Linked DNA regions of Homo sapiens: region 2 is linked to region 1. The links come from fine-mapping of genetic effects on gene expression. Tissue or cell type: whole blood. Region 1 holds a variant in brackets; the other region holds the start of a gene. All regions are shown on one strand. Distances are from middle to middle.

Region 1 (2,904 bases):
CCAGCCAGCACATTTTTCCTTATGGGGTTAACAGTGAGTTTCAGACAGTTACATATACAGTGGGGGTGGGGGGATAAATAAAAGTGAGGGGCCTTCCTGCAACAAGCCCCCGGGGCTGAGCTCAGAGGGGCCCAGCAGCCTGAGATGCAAGGTTGGCTCTTGGTCACCTGCAGTTGGCTAAAGTCCCATTTCATGGCCAGTGCTACTAAGGCTAGAGACAAAGGACCCAGTGGGCTCAAATCTGGCCCTGGATGCTGGACCTCCATCTTCTCACCTCAAAAGCAACGATAAGGCCAGGCGCATTGGCTCGCACTTGTAATCTCAACACTTTGGGAAGCCGAGGCAGGAGGATCGCTTGAGCCCAGGAGTTTGAGACCAGCCTGGGCAACATGGCAAGATCCCATCTCTTTAAAAAAAAAGTTTTAGCCTTGCACGGTGACATGCACCTATAGTCCCAGCTACTCGAGAGGCTGAGGCAGGAGGATCACTTGCACCTGGGAAGTCCAGGTTGCAGTGAGCTGCGATCGCACCACTGCACTCCAGCCTGGGCGACAGAGCAAGATCCGGTCTAAAAAAAAATAAAAGTAAGGATAAAAGAGAAAGGTGAAGGCCAGACGCAGTGGCTCACGCCTGTCACCCCAGCACTTTGGGAGGCTGAGGCGGGCTGATCACTCGAGGCCAGGAGTTCAAGACCAGCCTGCTCAACATGGTGAAACCCTGTCTCTACTAAAAATACAAAAATTAGCCAGGTATGGTGGCACACGCCTATAATCCCAGCCACTCGGGAAGCTGAGGCAGGAGAATCATTTGAACCCAGGAAGCAGAGGTTGCAATCAGCCGAGATCGCACCACTGCACTCCAGCCTGGGCGACAGAACAAGATTCTGTCTGAAAAAAAAAAAAAAGACAGAGACAAGGTCTTGTTCTGTCACTCAGGCTGGAATGCAGTGGTGCGATCATGGCTCACTGCAGCCTTGACCTTCTGTGCTCAAGGGATTCTCCTGCCTCAGCCTCCTGAGTTTGGGACTATAGGTGTGCACCACCATACCTGGCTAAGTTTTAAATTTCTAAGATTTTTTTTGTGATGTGGGAGGCTTCATCACAGGGGGATCAGGTTTAGCAAATACACATCCAGGCACCCCGTTAACTTCAAATTTCAGAGAAACAACTGTCTTAGCTTTCTGCTTTGTGGTAACAGAATACCACAGGCTGGGTAATCTATAAACAATTGAAGTTTATTTGGCTTGTGGTTCTGGAGGCTGGGAAGTCCAAGATTGGGCCATATCCGGCGAGGGTCTCCTTGCTGTGTTATCACGTGGTGCAGGCATCATCTGGTAAGAGAAACACGCCAGAGAGCAAGGGAAGCCCCAAACAGCCCTGCCTTGCCCTGCCTTGCCCTGCCTTGCCCTGCCTTGCC[T/CT]GCCCTGCCCTTCCCTGCCCTTCCCTGCCCTTCCCTGCCTTGCCTTGCCTTTTTTTTCAGACAGAGTCTTGCTCTGTCACCCAGGAGTGCAGTGGTATGATCTTGGCTCACTGCAACCTCCGCCTCCTGGGTTCAAGCTACTCTCTTGCCTCAGCCTCCCGAGTAGCTGGGATTACAGGCACATGCCACCATGCTCAGCTAATTTTTTGTATTTTTACTAGAGACAGGGTTTCACCGTGTTAACCAGGATGGTCTCGATCTCCTGACCTCGCGATCCACCCGCCTTGGCCTTCCAAAGTGCTGGGATTACAGGCGTGAGCCATGGCACCTGGCCAGCCTTTTCTTTTAAATTTTTATTTATTTTTACATTAAAAAAATTTAAAGACAGGTTATTACTCTTGTTGCCCAGGCTGGAGTGCAGTGGTGCAATCTTGGCTCACTGCAGCCTTGACTTCCTCCTGGGCTCAAGCAATCCTCCCGCCTCAGCCTCTTGAGTAGCTGGGACCATAGGCCCACACAACCACACCCAGCTAATTTTGTTCTTTTTTGTAGAGATGGGGTCTCACTATACATAGATATACTATAAATATATACTATATATTCATGTATGTATCTATATATATGATATATATTTTCATATATTATATATATATTAGAGACATGTATTTGTCTCTAAAACAGAGACAGGGTCTTGCTCTGTCTCTCAGGCTGGGGTGCAGTGGTGCAATCATAACTCACTGCAGCCTTGAACTCCTAGGCTCAAGCGATCCTCCCGCATCAGCCTCCTGAGTAGCTGGGACTACAGGTGCATACCACCACACTGAGCTAATTTTTAAATTTTTTGTAGAGACGGAGTCTCACTATGTTGCCCAGGCTGTTCTCAAACCCCTGGGCTCAAGGATCCTCCTGCCTTGCGCTGGGGTTACTAGTGTGAGCCACTGTGTCCAGCCCAATCTCACTTTTCTTTTTTTTTTTTTGAGACGGAGTCTCGTCCTGTCACCCAGGCTGGAGTGCAGTGGCACGATCTCGGCTCATTGCAACCTCCGCCTCCCTGGCTCAGACAATTCTCCTGCCTCAGCCTCCTGAGTAACTAGGATTAAAGGCATGTGCCACCATGCCTGGGTAATTTTTTTTTTTTTTTTTTTTAGTAGAGGCGGGCTTTCACTATGTTGGCCAGGCTGGTCTTGAACTCCTGACCTCAGGTGATCTGCTTGCCTTGGCCTCCCAAAGTGCTGGGATTACAGACATGAGCCACTGTGCCCGGCCTCCAAGCTCACTTTTTTTTTTTTTTTTTTTTTTTTTTTTGAGACAGAGTCTCACTCTGTACCCCAGGCTGGAGTGCAATGGCGCGATCTTGGTTCACTACAACCTCTGCCTCCTAGGCTCAAGCAATTCTCCTGCCTCAGCTTCCCAGGTAGCTGGGATTACAGGCGTCCGCCACCGCGCCCAGCTCATTTTTGTATTTTTAGTAGAGACAGGGTTTCACCA
Region 2 (2,904 bases), 27 kb after region 1:
TGTAATTCACACTTGGTAAGCCCTAGCTCTGGTCTATTTCACAGAAGAGGCATCTGAGGCTCAGAGAGGGCTTCAAGACACTTGCCCAGAGTCACACGGCAAATGGGTGCAGATCCCAGTGGATTCCACACGCATTCCCACACCTGCCTCCCTCCCTGCCAGGGCCCACCTATGACCTCCATCTTATTGGTTGGTGTCGCCCAGCAGCCAGGCAGGCCCCTTCCTACAATACTCCCAACCTACCTCCCCAAGGGTGGCCACTCACCAGCAGGGCTGGCGTGTTGATGTCCACAGGCTCGATGACAGTGAACACCTTCCTTGCCCGGCGTGCTGGGACCCAGGGCCGGTGCAGGGTGGCCTTGATACAGTAGCGGACACTACCGTGTTTGCCCTCGAAGGATGTCACCAGGGTCCTAGGGTGGAGGGACGGGACTTCAGGGGACAAGATACAGAGACAAGCAGGCAGGGAGAAGGAGACACAGACACTCCGGGGGCCTCCCAGGGGGAGAGTCTTGGGGCTCAGAGGTGCCCAGATATCCAGTATTGGAGGTACCAATCTGGAAGGGGCTGCAGGCTTAGGGCAACCCTGCACCCCAGAGGACTTACGGGGGCAGCTGGAAGCTGAACAGGAACTCATGGCGCCCAGGAGGCAGCGTCGTGGTCTCCCCGGTATCTGCAGGTAGGAGAAAAAGGAGGCGACTGAGCGGTTGCGCTGGGGTCCCAGGGCTGACGGAGGTACCGCCGTCCAGGTGGTGGGAGGCACACAACTGGTGTTGGAGCAGGGGTCCTCCATCCGTACCTGGCGCCAGGAGCGTGGCGCGGTGGCTCACGACCTCCACGCGTTCACTGTAGCTCTGCGTGTAAGCCGTGCTCGAGCCCGCGCTGCGCGACTCGGTCCAGTGCACGTGGGCGCGGCCCCGCGCGCGCAGCCTCAGGGCACCCACACGCGCGGCGCTTGACAGCTCCAGCAGCACCCGGCCCGCCACGGCCTGGCCGCCGCTAAACACGGGCTCGACGCCCGCGGTCGCGCCGTCCAACTGCACCGAGAACGCTTTCACCTTGTCGAATAGCATCGCGTCCGGGGTGCGAACCCACGACAGGCGGAACCTGGCCTCGAACTCGCGAACCGGCAGCTCAAGATGCCGACGCTGCAGCCTCAGAACGCAAAATCGCCGTCAACGCGCAGGCGCGCTCACCAACCGGAGCAGAAAATCCCCGCGCCGTGCGTCGGCGCCGCTTTTATACGGCAGGGCGGGGGGGGGTGGGGTCACCGTCTCTTCCCCGCCCCGGGAAGGGACTCCACCAATAGCGCGACAAGGGGCGTGGCTCTGCCCAGGCGTGGAGCAAAATAACAAACGCCCCTGCTCACCGCCGGCTGCCCCCTTCCCTCGCGGACCCCGGGGAGAAACTGAAGCCCTTAGGCTGCCAGAGCTGGTCTCTCGCGGACCCCGGGGGTAAAGAGGAAAAAAAGAGGTGCAGAGGCAGGGCCCAGGCCTGAGGTCACCTAGCAGAGCCTTCAGCCTCTCGGCTTAATCACTCACCAGCCGCCCCTCGTTGACGTGACTCGAGGCATGTCCAGCCCGATTTGGGGCGGGGGACTCTCGCCCCAGTTGAGGGCCAGAGAGCCTATGACTGTTCCAGGCCTGTTTCCCCCGCTATGCAAAGGGAGAAGTGGAGGAGGTGGGTGGGACCGCCCTCCACACTGGTGCCTGCTGCACCCCTTTCCTGATTCAAGTCCCGCTTAGCTGGTGGCTCTGGGCAAATGACAACCTCTTGGAGCCTCAGTTTCCACCTCTGTAGAGCCGGGAGAAAGTAAAAATCAGTCCTGACCTCAGAAGGTTGTGCATGGATCATCGTGCAGCCCCAGCTGGACTCCTCCAAGAGCCTCGCTCCCGGGTCATCAACCTGCTCTTGACATACCGTCACTCGGTCGCGCCTCGGCGCATTCGCCCAGGAGCGGTACCTACGAAATGATGTTCCCTTCCCAATTTTCAGCCTCTGGCAAACCCTACCTTCCCCGCAGCCCTTGTGCCTGCTCCAGTCATCCTCAGCCCCCGTCCCGCCACAGAGCTGAATGCAGGGGACGCTCGGGCACCCCCAGGTCCACAGCTGCGGTGTGGCCACGGGACGGCGTGACCTCTCTCTGGGCTTCAGTTTCCCCAAAGAAAAGTCGCATGGAGTTTCTCCAGCGGGAGTTGCCTCTGCGTCGTCTGCGGGACGCTGGCGCCCTCTCGTGGCAGCGTAATGCGCTGCCGCTGAACCCATCCCCTGCCGTGACTGTCCGCCTCTGAGCCTGGCTCAGGAGACTTCCACCACCTCAGTGAGGTGTGTGGGTGGAGGGGGCGGTCATAAACAAACACGGTCACCCTCAGCCCGTGATGGGGATCGGAACAGGAACGACGGAGTTGGAGGCACAGTGATCAGCCTGGAAGGCTGCCTGGGAGGATGGGTCTTTGGAGTTGAAAGGAAGGTCTGGGACCTTAGGCCAGGTTTCAATGGATACTAGAGGGGAGACAGTAGGCCGTTAAGTCCGGGAGGAGAAGCGGGATTAGGTAACCCTGAAGGGACTACTGAGCCAGCGCCTCCCTCAATTCATTTCGCAGACGGACCCCAAAGGCCCAGAGATGGGTGGGGCTCTGCCCGAGGTCACACAGCACCTCCACTGGCCTCGCCCCTCCAGTGTCACTGTTTTTTCCTTAAATGTATAACAATTTAACAATTTTTAAGCTCCCTCTCCCTCTCCCTCTCCCCTTGGTCTCCCTCTCCCTCTCTTTCCACGGTCTCCCTCTCATGCCGAGCAGAAGCTGGACTGTGCTGCTGCCATCTCGGCTCACTGCAACCTCCCTGCCTGATTCTCCTGTCTCAGCCTGCCGAGTGCCTGCGATTGCAGGCGCGCGCCGCCAC

Evidence for each region.
Region 2: it holds the start of ARRDC2, and the variant in region 1 is fine-mapped to the expression of ARRDC2 in whole blood (INTERVAL, PIP above 0.99).

The regions. Positions count from the first base shown.
Region 1 is chr19:18,033,641-18,036,544 of GRCh38, reverse strand. No RefSeq gene overlaps it. Among named protein-coding and RNA genes, the nearest start is that of ARRDC2, 27 kb to the right of the region's middle. The variant T/CT (reference allele first, on the strand shown) is at 1,417.
Region 2 is chr19:18,006,480-18,009,383 of GRCh38, reverse strand. ARRDC2 (arrestin domain containing 2) reads right to left here and starts at 1,214. Exons shown (of 8, transcript NM_015683.2): 1 at 800-1,214; 2 at 607-673; 3 at 266-413. The coding sequence starts at 1,073. RefSeq lists an enhancer at 941-1,160.